4 linked regions of the Homo sapiens genome follow. The protein of the gene in region 4 interacts with the protein of the main gene of each other region in a biochemical or structural test. Each region holds a gene or a part of one and is shown on either strand. Other genes may lie near its edges.

Region 1 (4,525 bases), on a different chromosome or scaffold from region 4:
TTCTTGACTGAGTTAGCTGTGGAAAAGACCCCTAACAAAGTCATCTGATCTTTTGGGAGTTTATCAGCTCACATCCATGAGGTGTGAAAGTTTAACACTTTGTTAATCTTTGCATCATAATCACATAGTGATAAAGGATAAAAATGAAACCCATCCTTAGCCACGGATCGCTAAGGCAATTACCAATGCTCCCTGGCACCATTTCCTCAATTTGGTGCTCCTTAGTCCTGTACTCTTTTTGTCAAACACAAGCTGGTTTCTCTTTTTACCTGCATGAGGCGCTCCAACTGGTAAAATTTGCAATGCAAATCTTCGAAGTTTTGCTTGAAAAGTTCCCTGAGCCCATAGTCAAACATGATCTTGACCAGAACACTGAATGCCTGTTCTTCAGGCATCTGTAACAGATAGGCAAGTTGTTGGGTAGGGAGGATGGCGGTGGGGAATCACAAAACATACAGAAGTTTTCTCAGGATATTAAATCCAGCTTTATATTATTGCCTTACCAGAAAATTTAGTGCTATGCAGAAACTCAGGCCTAAGGTTGTGTTTAAAACATTTATTCACTCAAACAAGGAATAGTTAACAATGACTACTCTTTGTCAGTATGGTTCCTGTCCTCAAGGAGTCTCTCACACAGCCAGTATTAAAATAACTGTAATAGGAATTAGACATCAGTGATAATACAAGAACAGGAAGGCCTGTATCTGCCTAAGGCAGTCAGAAACAGACTTTGTAGAAAGGACAGAATTTGAGCTGAGCAGAAATAGGCTGATATACAGTGTAGGTGTCATCTTTCCCAAATCCTGGGACCTCTGTTTAACCATTTTTCCTCCCTTAGCTGCTATTTCATTCTAGCAAAATTGTTTTTCTTCCTCACTGTTAAAAATATAGCTTGTTTTAGAAGAACCTTACATATTCTAAGGCTTGCAGTAATGCTTGAAGTACTACAAAAGCCTCCTTCACTTCTATTTACATTTATAATAATACCTACATTTTCCATAGTTTTATGGATAATTATTTCCCTGAGAACTTGGCAAGATATTTTCAAAAGAGAAAAAAGAAGCACTGGAAATGTTATTTAAGGATTGGTGTGAATGTAGCAAGCCTTCAAAAAAGTCAAGAAGGTGGGCAGGCTTCTATGGAACAAGATGATGGAGGCGGGCTGAGCACAGAAATCACTGAGAAGAAAGCAGAACTAAAGAGCAAATCAGATTAAGTAATAAGTGAGAAAAGCATAGCAGATCATTACTGGTAAGTTAAGAGTATCTGGGGCAAAAGCCCAGATCTTTGAAGTCTTTGTCATGGAAGGCAACTTCACTTTGCCACATGCAAGGAGATGTGGCCTAACCCACAGTGGTGATTCTGATGCTAAGTAGCCCATCTCCCCTCACTCTAAACAAGCACTTATAACACTCTGGCAAGCAGCAAGAGTTCAAAACAAGACATGGAGGGTCTGATTGGAAAACCCATTTTCAAGGGGATAAATGTCCTTGAACTGAAGGTGAGAACGAAGATAAATCACCCAGGCTTGTGGGACTTTGAGATATAAAGTCTCATTAAAACAACAAAACAAAATAAAAAGTCAACCTCTTTATTCATGTCATAGCTTTATCATATTTTTACATGACTACCAATAGCAACAAGCTGGGTTCAGTTAAGAAAAACCAAAGTGGTTTTTGTTTTACTTGTACAGGTTGAGCAACCCATATCTGAAAATACAAAATGCTCCAAAATCTGAAACTTTTTAAACACTGACATGATGCTAAAAGGAAATGCTCATTGGAACACTTTGGATTTTTGGATTTGGGATGCTCAACCGGTATAATGCAAATATTCCAAAATCCAAAATCCAAAATCCACAACACTTCCGGTCCCAAGCATTTCAAATAAGGGATACTCAAACTTGTATTGCAATCTACACAAAATGGCTTAATACCCTTGAATACCTGTTGCTTAGAAAAGCAAGATTCAGACTCCTTATCTGGGCTTCAAAGCTCTCCCTAGCTCTCTCCTCAACTCCCAGTCACTCAGGATACTCCAGTCACACTGTCCTCCTTTCAGTTCCTCCCATACACCAAGTGTTTCCCCAGTTTAGGACTTCTGTATACTGTACCATTCACTTTCCCATTAACACTCTATTCTCTACTCCCTTTTCAAATAGATCTATTATTTTCATAACAACATTTTGAAAAGTTAACACAGAAAAGAGCAAAAGAAAATGATATCCCTTATCATTTTCCAGGCTGCTCCTTACAGGTCACTTCCCCTGAGAAGCCTTTAATCTAAGTAAGACTCCCTTGTTACAATCTTACACCAAACTTTTTATTATACCTTAATAGCACCACTGAAAGTAATAAATGATATACTTGTGTGATTATGTGCTTAAAGCTAGTTGGATTCACAAGCTCTGTATCCAGGAGGATTGAGACCATGTCTCTTATTTACCTCTGATCTTCAGCACAGTACAGATCATAACAGGTACTCAAAACTCTTTGCTGACATCACCTGTGTGGTATTCTTGCCAAGCATTTTAAACTGAATCATGAGAAAATGAGACAAATCAAGACTGTGGGACATTTTATATGACAATTTGTCTGAATTTTTCAAAACTATCAATGGCATGAAACACAAAAAAAGGCAAAGGAGTAATTTAGATTAAAAGAATAAAGAGAAATGACAATTCAATATTTGAATCTTCATTAGATCTTGATTAGAAAAAAAGCTAGATTCTATGGAGTAGACAATTGGGAGAAAATTGAATGTGTATTGTGTATCAGACATTACTGAATCAATGTGGAATTTCTTGGATGTGATCATGGTATTATGATTATGATACAGAATTCTGTGCTCCCAGAAGGCATATATATGATCAAGTATTTAGAAGTCTTGATGTTTGTTATTTACTTTCAAGAATAATTTCAAAAAACAATTTAAGTAAAAAAGAAAATGTGTGTTTATGCAGAAAAGAGAAAAAAAGAGATGCAGAGGGAGACAAACAGAAAAAGCAGTGTGGAAAATATTAATTGGTAAACTAGATAAAGACTGTTCACCTTAACACTGTTTAGAGTTTTCTGTGGATTTGAAAGAAAATAAAAAAGGTGGAGGGCAAAGGTGTTTGCTAAGCCAATGAATGAATAAAATGGTACTAAAAGAAAACCAACTTTTCCGCCTTCCTCCTACCCCAATACCTAAATCTCAAAACAAGTATTAATGACAGCGGCTACTTTAGAGAAGATAAAACGTCCCCAAGAGTTCAACCAACATTAAAGTCTCTCCAATCATCCTATTAATAAAAAGGAAGTCTACCCCTGTACCAGTTTTCAACATTGCCGTTTATTCTCATCATATATCTCCTCCACAATGACATTAAGTTAATTTAAGGAAAAAGTTTCCAGCTATAGGTGTTAAAATTCATGCCTTAAGAGTCTGTCCAAACCCAATATAAAACCATGCTCAAGCCTAAGGTTAGTATAAGCTGAGGGAGGCCATGTGTTAAGTCATAACAGAGACCTAATTACTCACATGGAGAAGGAGCACAGCAGCAAGAAATGACTGGCCCTGGCAATAACCAATCTCTTCATCATACACAGAATAAGCCTGGAAAATAAAACACACAGAGGAAATGTAAATGAATGTAGCCACTTGTGGGCCATGGTGGCACTATAGGACCTTGAATACAGAACCCTGGAGGATGCTACCCACACTGGGACAGCATTTTGACAGACAGTAAGTGGTGCCAATACTTCTCTCCAATCTTAACTTTTTCTTTACAATGAATACAGCTATCACCACTGCATTTCCTGTGGCGAAGGAGTAGGGAAGATTAAGGAAAAACCACTTCTGCGCTAAAAAAAACTTCGTATTTCCTTGTTGTTGTTCATGATGTTCCCTCTCCTTGGGATGTCCTTTCCCTCTCTGCCTCAAACATGCACTCTTCCTTCAGGCACCAAACTTATTTCAATTCCCCCAGAATGAATTCCTCTCTTCTCTGCCTCTATGGCACCTGCTATACATGCATGGTTATTATTATATTATTACCACATTGCATTTTATTTTATTTTTAGAGACAGGGTCTTGCTCTGTTGCTCAGGCTGGAGTGCAGTGGTACAATCATGGCTCACTGCAGCGTCAACCTCCTGGGCTCAAGGGATCCTGCTCCATCAGCCTCCTGAGTAGCCTGGACCACAGGCTTGCACCACCATGCCTGCCTAATTTTTAAAAATTTTTTATAGAGATGGGATCTCAACTACGTTGCCCAGGCTGGTCTCTAACCCCTAGGCTCAGACTATCCTCCTACCTTGGACTCCCAAAGTACTGGGATTACAGGTGTGAGCCAGTGTGCCTGGCCCACACTGCATTTTTTTTTTTTTTAATAGAGACAGGGTCTCACTATGTTGCCCAGGCTGGTCTCAAACTCCTAAGCTCAAGTGATCCTACTGCCTCAGCCTCACAAACTGCTAGGATTACAGGCGTGAGCCACCAAGCCCAGCCCCACACTGCATTTTACATGTCCATCTTCTCTGCC
Region 2 (4,525 bases), on a different chromosome or scaffold from region 4:
AATAAAAAGCAAGTTAGTTACTTGTAAAATACAATGAGCATACAGGCATTGGGTGAACGTTTCCATTCCAAATTGGAGAAATTGGCAAAGCGAAGGAGCCACAGGCCCCTTGCAAGTTTGAAACCCGGTGGGGCAGTCATTAAATCTTAAAGCTCCAAAATTATCTCATTTTACTCCATGTGTCACATCCAGGGCATGCTAATGCAAGGGATGGACCCCAAGGCCTTGGGCAGCTCCACCTCTGTGGCTCTGCAGGGTACAGCCCCCATAGCTGTTTTCACAGGCTGGCATTGAGTGACAGGCACACAGTGCAAGCTGTTGGTGGATCTACCATTCGGGGGTCTGAAAGACAGTGGCCCTCTTCTCACAGCTCCACTAGGCAGTGCCCCAGTGGGGACTCTGTGTGGGGGCTTTAACCCTACATTTCTCCTCTGCATTGCCCTAGTAGAGGTTCTCCATGAGGGCTCTGCTCCTGCCACAGACTTCTGCCTGAACATTCAGGCGTTTCCATACATCCTCCGAAATCTAGGCAGAGGCTCCCAAAGCTCAACTCTTGTCTTCTGTGCACCTGCAGGCCCAACACCACAGGGAAGCCACCAAGGCTTAGGGCTTTTACCCCATGAAGCAATGGCTTGAGCTGTATCTTGGCCCCTTTTAGCCATGGCTAGAGCTGGAGTGGCTGGGATGCAGGACATCAAGTCCTGAGGTTGCACAGAGCAGCAGGGCCCTGGGCTTGGCCCACGAAACCATTTTTTCCTCTTAGGCCTCTGGACCTTTGATGGGAGGGGCTGCCGCAGATGTCTGACATGTGCTGGTGACATCTTCCCCATTGTCTTGGCTATTAACATTCAGCTCCTTTTTACTTATGCAAATTTCTGCAAGAGGCTTGAATTTCTCCTCAGAAAATGGGTTTTCTTTTTCTACCACATAGTCGGGCTGCATATTTTCCAAACTTTTTGCTCTGCTTCCTTTTTAAACGTAAGTTCTAATTTCAAATTATTTCTTTGTGAATGCATATGACTGTATGCTTTTAGAAAAAGCCAGGTCACATCTTGAATGCTTTGCTGCTTAGAAATTTCTTCTGCCAGATACCCTAAATCATCTCTCTCAAGTTCAAAGTTCCACAGATCTCTAGGGCAGGGGTAAAACACTGCTAGTCTCTTTGCTGAAGTGTAACAAGAGTGCTCCAGTAACACCTTGATAGATTTTTCAGTGTCTAAATATTCCTGAGTATCAAAGTTTGATAAATATAGACAGAGAAATAGAGATTATATAGACATAATCTATATAAGTGAGTCACTCCAAGTCACTTCTTGTCATTTCGTTTACTAAATTTTTACTTCCTTTTACAACGGGACATGTTTGAAGCAGAACCTTTTCACCAAATCTTCCCTTTCATTAATTCATTTTTTAACAAACACCTACTAGGTGAAAAACATTATTCAGTATGCTTATGGTGTAGTGGAAACCAGGACATTTCTCCAGAGAAAAGATCCTCTGAAATCTAAATTTTGATTGATTGCCTGAGCAACACTAAACTGAGGAAAATAAATAACAGCAATAGTAATATTCATCAGTTATATATAAGGTAACAATAAATTCCCATTTGATTAGGATAGCCCTGGCTTATAGATTTTTACCCAGTGTAACTATTGGAAATGCTCCTTTTAGTTTTAAAAGCATCTGTATTTGGATGATAAATTATATGTTCTCCTTATTTATACAATACCTGCAAGTACAAGGAGCTTGTAAGAATTTCACATTTATTAACTTATTTAATACAAGAATCTGGGAAAAAACATGAAAACTGGAAAAGTAAGACTCCTTCACAATGAGAATCACAGAGTGATTTTAGAGGATATGGCAGAAATCAAGTAGCATAAATATTATTTCTTTTTTAATTTTTTAATTTTTTAATTTTTTTATTATACTTTAAGTTTTAGGGTACATGTGCACATTGTGCAGGTTAGTTACCTATGTATTTCTTACATAGAATTGAATTTAGAGAATGTAAAGTTCTCTGCAAAATGAAGGTATGAATATGTTATAAATACTAATTTTCATATATAGTGTAATGTTTTTCCAATTAAGGATACATTTGAATTGATTCAGAGGAAAGAAATTTCTTAAGAATTTTTTATTTTAAAAATCCCATAATAGGCCGTAATCTATCAATTACAAACATCAATTTTAACTTTGATACTTCTTTAGTGATAAAAAAGTAGTGCATACTTTAGAACATATGTACAGAAAGCTTTTTTGACATTGCATTCCTGCTGCTTTTAAAAAAGAAATGTATTTCTGGGATAGGAGGCATTTTTAAAGAAACTATCTCATTGTGACTATCTAGAAAGGTGACATTTCATACTACATGAGACAATGTGCTTTAAAATTTTCTCTGAATAAAAGGAGAGATAAGAGTACATGAACTTTGAGTAGAGCTACTTACAAGTCTACTTAGTCCTACATATTGCTTTACTATTGTGTTGCAAGGCATCAATCAATGGAATTAGGGTAGTCTCAATGAGTAGTGCATTAATTTTAGCAAATTTAAATTGCTTCAATAAAATATAGGTGTTGTAACATACAATTATCAGCTCTTTGGTGAATTTGACATTAAGAAATCTTCACTAAAACACAGAAACCTCTCTAGATAATAATTCTTTATAATAAAACTTTTTAATATCATAAAATGGATCTTTTCTTCCTTGTTAATGTTTAACTGGTCTAAGGTCAGGAAAGCCCAACATACAGTGTAAGTGTGGGTTAGTGGCTTATTTGATCATGTAAATATTCATTTATATAATCCTGCCTTTGAAATCTAACTAACTCCAGCTCACTTCTTGTTATTTCATTTACTAAATTATTTCCTTCCTTGCAGAACGGGACCTGTTTGGAGCAGAACCTTTTGACCCATTTAACTGTGGAGCAGCAGATTTCCCTCCAGATATTCAATCAAAATTAGATGAGATGCAGGTGACTATTTTGATAGACTGGCCCATAAATGATTTATTTCATTTTGATATGGGACAAAGAGAATGTTATGTACCAAAACTATGGTTTCCTTCAATTATTTTCGCTATAAAAACTCGCTTAAAATAATTACTTTAAAATAATAATGTACAGTTAGTCCTAAAAATACTCCTACATATGCTAAGGATAAGGTTGTTGGTTTTTTAAATGGTTCAATTTATAATGTCAATAAGATGGTTCATTTTTTAAATACAAAATGGCATGGATTCTAATGGTTCATTGTTCTGAAATCTAGAGTTAAACAGTCACTGCATTAGATTTATAAGATTTGATCTCAGTCTTAACAATTATGAATTTGAAAATTGTAAATGGGTAGATGAAGGAAAATCTTTGTAAGAGTGAAATTATTCTCTCTGAAAAGAAGCATTGTAGCTGTAGTTCATAACTTTTGGGCTTTTATTTAAAAAGCAAACAACCAGTGACAACTTATTTAGGAATGTAGTTCAGTTGGGTTTTCATTTCTCTCTCTTCCTTTTACTTTTTTGTTCTAAATTGGTCTGAAGTTTACAGAAATTGGTTTTAAATGCTTTGCACTATGGGCCATGATTTAAAAATAGTCTTATAAACCCTAGAATAAAGTCTTCTCTTTATATTTGCCCTTTACATTTTGGTGAAGTTATTATATCCTATTTTTCATCAAAAAGTTTATATATGGTAGAATCCAGACAGACACCAATTATATGAAGCTGATTGAGAAGAGACAATGAAGACACTAAAGTAAGGAGAAGGAGGTATTTTTGTTTATTAGTCTTGGGTTAATACATTAATTCTCTATGCCTCACTTCCTAGAAAAAACAATTATGGGTGAACACTGATCTATCACTGATAATTGCAATCCTTCTTAGAAAGTTAATTTAAATGCCCTTTTACTCATTTTTGACTGCAGCTGTGTAGCTATCTTATTTTCTAGGTAGTACATGAATTCATTATTGTTCTAGATGTAATAACATGCCTGAATTTAAAAGTTGAATTACTTAACATATGTCTTGAGGTTTTCAAAGAATCTATTAAAACAGTGTTTCTCAAGTTGAATGATTCTTAATCCCCTTTTACATAAAAATTGTTTTAGATCCTTAGTATTAACTTACAATTTTTAAATATTGACAAAAATGTTATAAACAACTTGTCCTTATGGTTTTTATAAAATTATGAATTCAATAAATTATAAATTAAATGAAAGCCAAATTGCAACACCAATACAGGACGGATGATCTTATTTGGTTAAAGCTAAAACCACCTTATCAAATTTCTATTGATTTCAACATGTATTCTATCTGATGGCACAGATTTCCTAGTTCTTTTCTATATTTCAAACGCTATGAAACTTTCAAATGGCGCATGATAATTTAGCAAGAATGCTGTATTTCATATGAAATCAATTCCTTTTCTTTTACATTAGTTTTACCCATTGGACATGTACTATCTGGTACTAATGCTTTTGTAGTAACAAAGAAATATTTATGTGGTAGTATTTATTCTCAAGGGTTGCACA
Region 3 (3,582 bases), on a different chromosome or scaffold from region 4:
GCCTCACACTTTTCTAAGTCTGGCTGCCCCGCCACAAACAAGGACTTCTGGCCCCCAGCAATTCCCAGTCCAAACAGGAAGGAGGGCCTGGCAGTCTCCGGGGGTTGCAGTTGTGGCCTCAGCTGTCAGAAGTGAACCTAACCTTCCTGTGCCAGGACCTGGGTCAAGATTGGAGATGATCCCATATGCACTTCTGTATTCAGCTGTGCGGTCTTCTGACAGAGGCGGTATGTAAAGCCAAAAAGCCCCCTAGCTACTTGTCCAGGACGCCTGCTCCTGGAGTTTCTCCAAGTTAACTCTTGTCAGCAAAGCTACATGAAATTCTGTGGCACCCTGTGGCTCTGCGTCTGTCACTCACTCACACACACGTGCTCTCTCCTGACATACCTCTGGTAACTATGGAGCTAGTCCTCAAGGTGGAATTTTACTCTCATGATAAAGACAGTCTCTTCCCCCTTCTTTTCCATCTTCCTCCCATTCCCATGAGTCCTCCACACAGGTTTGTTCCTTTAAAGGTTTATTTCTGGCAAATAAAAAAAAATAACTTATGTGGTTAGATAAATTAATGTATGTGATTAGATACGACACAGGGCAGAGCTGAACGTTCCTGTTTTCTTCTGGATCTTGAAGGTTGGTGAGAGGCCGCTGAATGAGACCCAGCCTCGTGTTTTGTGGGATGAAGAGATGCAGACAAAGTGACTCAGGTACACTGATGCTCCCTGGAGGGCTGGGAGGTGGGCTCAGAGGAAGAGGCCGAATCCAAACCTTTTTTATTGAAAAGAAATAGCTCTTGTTTGTAGCATTTAAAAGAATCAACCCAAACTCTGCACACACTCATCCGTAGTGACCATAAACATGACATACCAAGCAGAGGCTCAGAAAGATGGAGCAACAGACTGAGGACATTTTCAACATGGTACTTGGGGATACCTTTGGGAAAGATGCCTTCCCCAGCAGAGGCCAGCACTGTGGAGAGATAGGACCAGAGCCACTACTGGCACAGTTGTCAAGATCTTTTGCTTTCTGAACTCTGGGGACCGCTGCCTTTTAGCCTGAGGGGAATGTCTCCAAATTTCTTGGGTTGGTAAGTCTCAGAAGCAGCCAGCCCCTTGGTCAACAGAGGGTACCTTTCCTCCAGGAATCTGAGAATGGAACATGCTGATAGTCTGTGCTGAGATCTTAAGGCCAGCATCCCAGAGGCCTTTCCAGAGCCCAGAACCTCAAAGCTGGGAGAGAAGATTCTGGGGACTATCTGCCAGGGAGGAAACCAAGGCTCCTCGGGGGTCAGCGTGTGAGTTCCCCAGGAGCAGAGACCATGGCTTGCTCACCACTTTTGACCTGTGTCTGGTTCCTTGATGAGGTTTTGGCCTTGGCATCACTTTGGAGGTGGGGTTTACTCTCTTAGGCTATGGTGAATTTTGGTTATAATTTTTTGATAAATTAGGAACAGGCTTTAGTTGCCTGTAAACACACTGACTAAGACAGCCAGAAAGCAAGCAGGTGAGAATCAGAAGAAGCTCGAAGGGTTTTCCCTGATAAAAGCATATGCCGTGAGGCTACAGGCAGCTCATTTCTTAAGGCCCGTGCATAGACTGCAGGCTGGGCAGCTGCCTCTGCAGCCGACCTGGAGGGACTGTGTTGACCGACTGCAGGGCCAACCAGGAATTGAGGAACCTGCCTGCACAGATGGCCAGGGCCACAGCTGGCTGGACACTGGCAAAACTTAAACAAGGGCTGTTCATTGAACTAAATATGACCTCAGCATCCCTATCTAAAGACTCCTGAAAGGCCCAAGTAAAATCTAAATTTTCAAATCACTGGGCAGTTCTGAAATCCAGTTCAGGTTCCCCTTTTGGCCATCGGGAACAGCAATTTCTGGCACAAAAATCAGCCCAAGGATTCAAAGCCCTCGAGGAGTAGAGGGGTGTGAGAAGAACCACATGTCAACACACCGGCTCTCTCTTCACAGAGATACACTTCTATGCTCCAGACCTGGGGCCGTTTTTACTCTGACACCACTCTCTTATTAGGTGTTCTGAAAGTTCACACTCCCAAATGAACTCATGCCTGTGTTATTTTCCTTTGAAGGACCAGAAGGCCCCCTCAGTACCATCTGAGGACACCGCAGTAGTGCCTATTAAATAACATCCAGACAAGGCATGGCCCTTCAACTATCTTATGAAATGAGAAACCACCACACCGGCCACGAAGCCGTTCACATACACATGTGCAGGGTGGATGAGGAAAGGACAGATGAGAAACTGGGACCATACCAGGTGATAACTGAGAACCAAACTCCCCAAAGCTCCCAGCACTGGACGACTCCAGAAAGGTGAGTATTTATATAGCTCCTACAAAAATAAACTTTCGATGCCTGTTCTTTAGAGTTATAAAGGAAAGGCCTTTGCATTTGGTTTGTCTCTGGAGGCTTTTCTGGTATCAAATGCAGTAAAGGTTTTAAATGACTCTGAGGCAAGGTGGAAGAACTGGCTGCCTGCCCCTGCCTTGGTCCTGGGTTTTCAGGATGGGATGGGGCACAGGCAGAAGAGGGCAGCTGCCCTGGGCACAGCATAGAAGAGCAGAGGGTGGGGTGGGCTGGGCCACAGAGGGGATCCCCAGAGTCCTGTTACAGGAGGCCATGAACACATTGTGACTCTGAGCATTGGGGTCTGACTCCTGAGTGTCTCTGGAAGCACGTGTGCCCCTCCTCTCAGTGTCCGGCCAAGGCAGGCATGAGGTGTTGGATCAGCTCCACTCAAAGAGGGCGAGCCAAGAGTGTGCCAGCTTTTCCCCAACAGGCTAGGGCTCCAGCAGCTCCCCTCCTCTTCAGAACTGGTGCCCACACACTGTCAGTGTCCTACACATACTCTCACTTGCTTTTCCTTTACAGCGTCTTTTCTCTAACTTTACTGGTCTGAAAAAAAAAAATTCTAATACGTGCAGCACTTATAAGTAACTTATAAATATGGGAAGCTGTCAGAAGTTTATGTATTTTAAAACCATGACATGGGCTAGAGTCTGGTGAAACAAGATCGGGCAAGGTCGAAAGGTGACATCTTCGGAGGACCAAAGCACCAACTTTCCCCCGTCAGTGGAACTTTGAAACTATAGTGTGGATGGAGTCCAAGACATGATAGCACACCAGAGAGAGAGAGAGAGAGAGAGGCGGAGGGTGAGTGCCTTTAACTGTTACCAGTTTTGAAAATCATGTACTTCCATTAACTTTTACCTTCCCCACTATGAATTCTTTCAAACACTCCTGCTCCCTGGCATTAGATTCTGTCCCACGAGCCATTCATCTTCCATGCACTGCCTTGGCTAAAGGTGCAGATTAAGGGTAAATTCAAGCCCTTCCCTTCCTATGGGAGGGCTCTGAAAAGGGGAAAGAAAAGAGGGGAAAAATATGAAATTCTGGAAGTGTGACATCCAGAAAATGAAAACATCTTATGTCTTATGTGATAATAAGTAAAACTATCTTGTTAAAGGTTCACATTGATTTTAGGATGCATTTAGATTTTCTGGATATTAAGACAGAAAAAAAGGCGTTTTGGGTTGGAGGACAGGGGACAGGTTTGTAAGCAG
Region 4 (4,525 bases):
TAAAAAAATAAATAAAATAAAATAAAATAAATAAAAAATAAAAAAAAAATTACTGTTGCATCATGAGGATAAGAAAAGAAAGCAAAGCCCTGAGCTGCAGCATTGTCCAGGCCTGCCCGTGTGAGTCCTCCTGCCTGCGGTGTGAGTGATCCCGCCTGCGGTGTGAGTGCTCCCGCCTGCGGTGTGAGTGATCCCGCCTGCAGTGTGAGTGATCCTGCCTGCGGTGTGACTGCTCCCGCCTGTGGTGTGAGTACTCCTGCCTGTGGTGTGAGTGATCCTGCCTGGTGGATTTCAAGCTCGCAATATCACTGGGTTGGGAGGACGTGCATGGTGGCCAGTGTTGGCCAGAATTTCCACCACACAGGTAGGGAATTCCTACCACCACACAGATGGTAGGCGGAAGTAGCCCCACGAGGGTGGATCACAGTAAAATCACCAGGAAGCCATCGGCTCTTGGCACTCTACTGAGTTTCCATGGGTGTTAAACAGCCCGGTGACATCGGTTCTGGCCGGCCAGATGCACAGGGGCGCAGCCAGCCTCCCCCATGCTCACACATGCTCAGCTTCTTTCATGGAAGATTGCGGCATCATTTCACCTTCCAGGAACACGGAGCAGATGGTCGGGTCACCTCCCCGCCCAAACCCTCCCATGACTGCCCTGCATGGGCCCAGTCCCTTCCATGGAGCTCCTGGGGCCGGTCACAGCCTGGCCACCACCCTCCTCTGCGCCCTCCGCCCACCGCCCACTTCCATCCGTCCCAGTCTGGGGCCATCCCTGTCTTGGGAGAGCTGGGCCCTCCCACATCCTGTCCTGCTGAGCCTGCTGTGCGCTTGGTGCAGAAACACACTCGGAGGGGGCGTGGCACGTGTGTCCACACTCGCTGCCTGTTGCCTTGACCACCCCCGAAGGTGACCAGGAAAGGCTGAGGAAGGCTTGTGTGCCCCAAGGCTCAGCAGTAGGCATGGGGTGCACTCTACCTGCCTCCAGTGCCTGGCCCTGGTGCCACACCATCGCCTGGAGTCTGGCTGCCATGACAAATGGCAAAGGATTGGGACCTGCTACTGCTGGTGAGGAGGGGACCGTCATGGCCACCTACAGATGGGACACAGGGCTGTGACATCCTGACCAGCAGGTGGTCTCTGTGGATGTCCGGCCCCAGCCCTGCCCTGCGCTGACCCACTGTCCCGGCAGCCTGACCAGCTCTGGGTGCCCACTCGGAGGGTCCCCCAGACACCTGCCCCCATCCCGTGTCTCCCGCAGGGTCCTGCTCCCACTCCAGAGCCCGGGGAACCTATGGCAGGAACCGCTGGTCTCGCTGTCGGCCCCAACACACCACGAGGTTGAGCTTGTAGCTGGGATACGGGCCTGACAATGGATCCCTGTAGTTCAGCAAATGTTCACTTTACAAAAGCAGCGGCCCTCCCGGGCACTTTCCTTCCCCAAACCCCGAGTATGTCTCCTCAGCCTAAGCAGCAGGGCAGGGGCTGTGAGGCTGCCCAGCTGGGCAGAGCCCCAGGCAGGGGGAAGAGGGGGCCCTGGTTTCCTGCGTGCCATTTTGAAGAAGATGGCGGTGATGGCCCTGGAATGGCCAGCAGGTCGGTCACTGTCCGGATGAGGATAATCGGGCCCTTTAGGGCGGCTGCTCTGTGAATTCCCTGAGTGGGTGAGCTCAGTACCCACGACGCACTGCCCGCCGGGCACCACTACCCCTTTCACAGATGAGGAAACTGAGGGCTCGGGGTAAGGAAGGGCCTGGGGCGTCCTGTGGTAAGTAACAGAGCTGGGTGTGAGGTGAGCCACCCAGGGCCCTGTCCACCCTGAAGAACGGGGCACGTGGCTGTGTAAAGTACAATGACAACTATCTCGTTCCTCCAGCTCCACCCTGAAGAACGGGGCACGTGGCTGTGTAAAGTACAATGACAACCACCTCCTTCCTCCAGCTCAGTCCTTCTGTCCCTGTGGCCTCAGGGCCACACACTGTGCAGGCTGCTATGGGCGGAGGCTCCTTTCAGGAGGGCGTGCAGTGTTTCCTTCCTTCTAGCGAATCCCTGTTACACAGTCAGGGCTCCACCCAGCAGGCCTGGCTGGCCACACCCCACACATGCCAAAGAGTGGTAGACCCCGGCTGAGCTCCTGAGAGGTAGCCTCTGAGCCCTTGGTACATCCTACCCGATGGGGGTGTCATTGTTCCTGGGGCCTCAGGTCACACCGGATAGTCCCACAGTGTGATTTGGGGTGGGGCCCTGGACAGTTTTCAGCTTGACCTCTGGAGGGCTAGAGACTGAGGTCAGCCATGGGGTGTCAGCCGCGCCGCTGTGACTGACCCCCAGTAGACACCGAGGCTCAAGAGCCTCCTTGGGGACCATGTTCTGTGCATGAGGCCACACATCATCGCTGGGAGGATGGAGCGCCGCCCACACCCCTGCAGGGAGGGGACACTGGGAGCTGGTGCCTGGTTTCTCTCCTGTGCACCTTTGACCTTTGCTGACTTTTGTCTGTATCCTCCCACCTCGGGCAGCGGCTGGCACCCAGGAGGGTCGGCTCTGCAATAAACTGTAACTGTGAGTTTACTGGTTCCTGAGCTCTGCAAGTCCTTCCGGCAAATCACTGATCCTGAGAAAGGTCTTGGGAACCCCAACAGCACCTGAGCGTCTTGACGCACTGACCTGCTCAGGCTGAACACATGGCACTAGCAGCGGAAATGCAGGATGAACGTGTTTCACTGGGGGCCTCTTTTTCTAGGAGCAGAGGCTGGTTATCAGCTGTGCTTCCTTCGTGAAATTCATCCCACTCCGCACTCCAAGCTTGTGAACGTTTTTGTGTAATTTTATCTTCACGGAGAGTGTTGATGTTCAAATGTATGTGAGCATAAAATAAGTGTGTTTCCATAAAATAAAGAATTGTGTTGTATTCCAGGAAAAAACAGAAATATCACCAATGCCAAGACATGCTGTTAACACAGCTGAGTTTCAGGGACGGGGAGGAATTCCTCCTCCTATCGACACGCAGGCGTCCTGTCCCCGACGGGAAGCCTCGGGCTCCTCACCTAGGGGGATCCAGGACCTGGGCCGGCTGGTTGCTCACGTGCCCAGCATGCAGAGGTGGCGCTCAGACCTGCAGTGGCGCTGGGTCTGGCCTGTGGCTGAAACATGCCCCCACCCAATGGATGCTCGGGACCCAACAGCACTCACCTCGTAGGTCTTCACCATCCTACTGGTCACCGCGAAGATGGGCTGGATGTTGTTTTCAGCCAGCTTGTGCGCCAGCTGGCCCACCGATGGGTAGTCCTGGAGAGAGGAGGTCCTGCTCAGTTGGCCCCGAGTCCAGGACAAGGCTTCCAGGTACCCGCCCCTGTCTGCCCCGCTCAGCGTCAGCCCTGCCCGTGCTTCGAACCCTCTCTGGGGAAGGCTGGAGAGGCAGAGGCTGCCACGCAGGAGTGCAGGGCAGAGAGCTGCCACGCCCTCTGGGCAATGTGTGCATAGACTCGGGCTTTCAGAGTCCAGGCATGAGCAGCATTTGAGGCGTCTCACCGTGGGACTGGGGATGTCCACGGGGGCAGAATCCCAGCCTTCCCCACACGGTGGACCTGCTTTCGCACTGAGGGACACTCAGTTTCGGTAGAGGCCATGAGTGTCAGGTGCGGCTCTCCCTACCCGAGTTCCGGGACCCGAGGGCCGTCCCTCCCGTCTGTGGCTCCCGGCGGAGGACCTGAGTCTTGTATCTCTAAAGTCCTTTGCGGCCCCCAGAGCCTACAACGTCAGGCTGCAAGAGCGTCGCACTACGGCCAGCGAGGACAAGCCCCTTGTGACCAGTGGTTGCCTCTCGGCCCACGGCTGATCCCAGCCAGAAGTCCTGGCCCCTCTGAGCCATTGAGATGCCTCCGCAGAGAGGCTCATCCTAACCCGTGCATCCTGGGCTCCTTCTCGCCTCTGTCCCTCCCTGCATGTTCCTCATGGTCCCCGCAGCCGCTCACCCAGCTCAGGCAATGGGGGCAGGGAGGGGCCACACTGGAGGAGGCGGACTCAGGGGCAGCAGGGAACGTACAGTGGAGGCCGGGAGGGGGAGGAGGCGGATGCTTGGGGATGGGACCCTGGCCAGAGGCGGGGACGGCAGGGTGCAGCCGTAGCCTGGGGGCGGTTACTATACCTCCACAGCAGCTGTCAGCCCAGGTAGGGGGGCAGTGGGGCTGGAGACCAACAGAGCCTGGGTGTCCCACAAGGGCGAGGCCGGGCCTCAGCCTGGCTGCCCCCACCAACCCTACCCTCCCCTGGCCTGAGGCCAGTCCGGGGAGACCCCACGCTGCCACTTGGGGCTTCCAGAAGTTTCCTCAGGAATCTGCTCCTTGGGTCAGAAGGAGGCTCTGTCAGGTGGAGACCCCACCCTTGTCTCCTCCGTCAGTGGTGTCCTGCCAGGCGGTGCCTGGGTGCCTGGGGTGGGGACTTACGAATTCGTTGCTCCTCTTGTACAAGTTGTCCTCCAGGTGACAGCGGCCGTCGTTGGGGGTCAGGATGGCGCCCAGCTTCC

Evidence for each region.
Region 1: the proteins of ITGB2 (region 4) and RABGAP1 form a complex in vitro, tested with the Homo sapiens proteins (one study listed by IntAct).
Region 2: the proteins of ITGB2 (region 4) and GULP1 form a complex in vitro, tested with the Homo sapiens proteins (one study listed by IntAct).
Region 3: the proteins of ITGB2 (region 4) and TLN2 interact in far-western blotting, tested with the Homo sapiens proteins (one study listed by IntAct).

What each region holds. Positions count from the first base shown.
Region 1 is NC_000009.12:123,069,422-123,073,946, reverse strand, and holds part of RABGAP1 (rab GTPase-activating protein 1), read right to left. Parts: intron 3,598-4,525; coding exon 3,523-3,597; intron 2,536-3,522; coding exon of another isoform or gene 2,470-2,535; exon of another isoform or gene 2,446-2,469; intron 396-2,445; coding exon 270-395; intron 1-269. UniProt on the Homo sapiens protein: May act as a GTPase-activating protein of RAB6A. May play a role in microtubule nucleation by centrosome. May participate in a RAB6A-mediated pathway involved in the metaphase-anaphase transition.
Region 2 is NC_000002.12:188,584,974-188,589,498, forward strand, and holds part of GULP1 (PTB domain-containing engulfment adapter protein 1), read left to right. Parts: intron 1-2,881; coding exon 2,882-2,976; coding exon of another isoform or gene 2,977-3,102; exon of another isoform or gene 3,103-3,636; intron 3,637-3,677; coding exon of another isoform or gene 3,678-3,740; exon of another isoform or gene 3,741-4,525. UniProt on the Homo sapiens protein: May function as an adapter protein. Required for efficient phagocytosis of apoptotic cells. Modulates cellular glycosphingolipid and cholesterol transport. May play a role in the internalization and endosomal trafficking of various LRP1 ligands, such as PSAP.
Region 3 is NC_000015.10:62,841,550-62,845,131, reverse strand, and holds the end of TLN2 (talin-2), read right to left. Parts: 3' UTR 501-3,582; downstream 1-500. UniProt on the Homo sapiens protein: As a major component of focal adhesion plaques that links integrin to the actin cytoskeleton, may play an important role in cell adhesion. Recruits PIP5K1C to focal adhesion plaques and strongly activates its kinase activity.
Region 4 is NC_000021.9:44,895,875-44,900,399, forward strand, and holds part of ITGB2 (integrin beta-2 isoform 1 precursor), read right to left. Parts: coding exon 4,446-4,525; intron 3,289-4,445; coding exon 3,193-3,288; intron 1-3,192.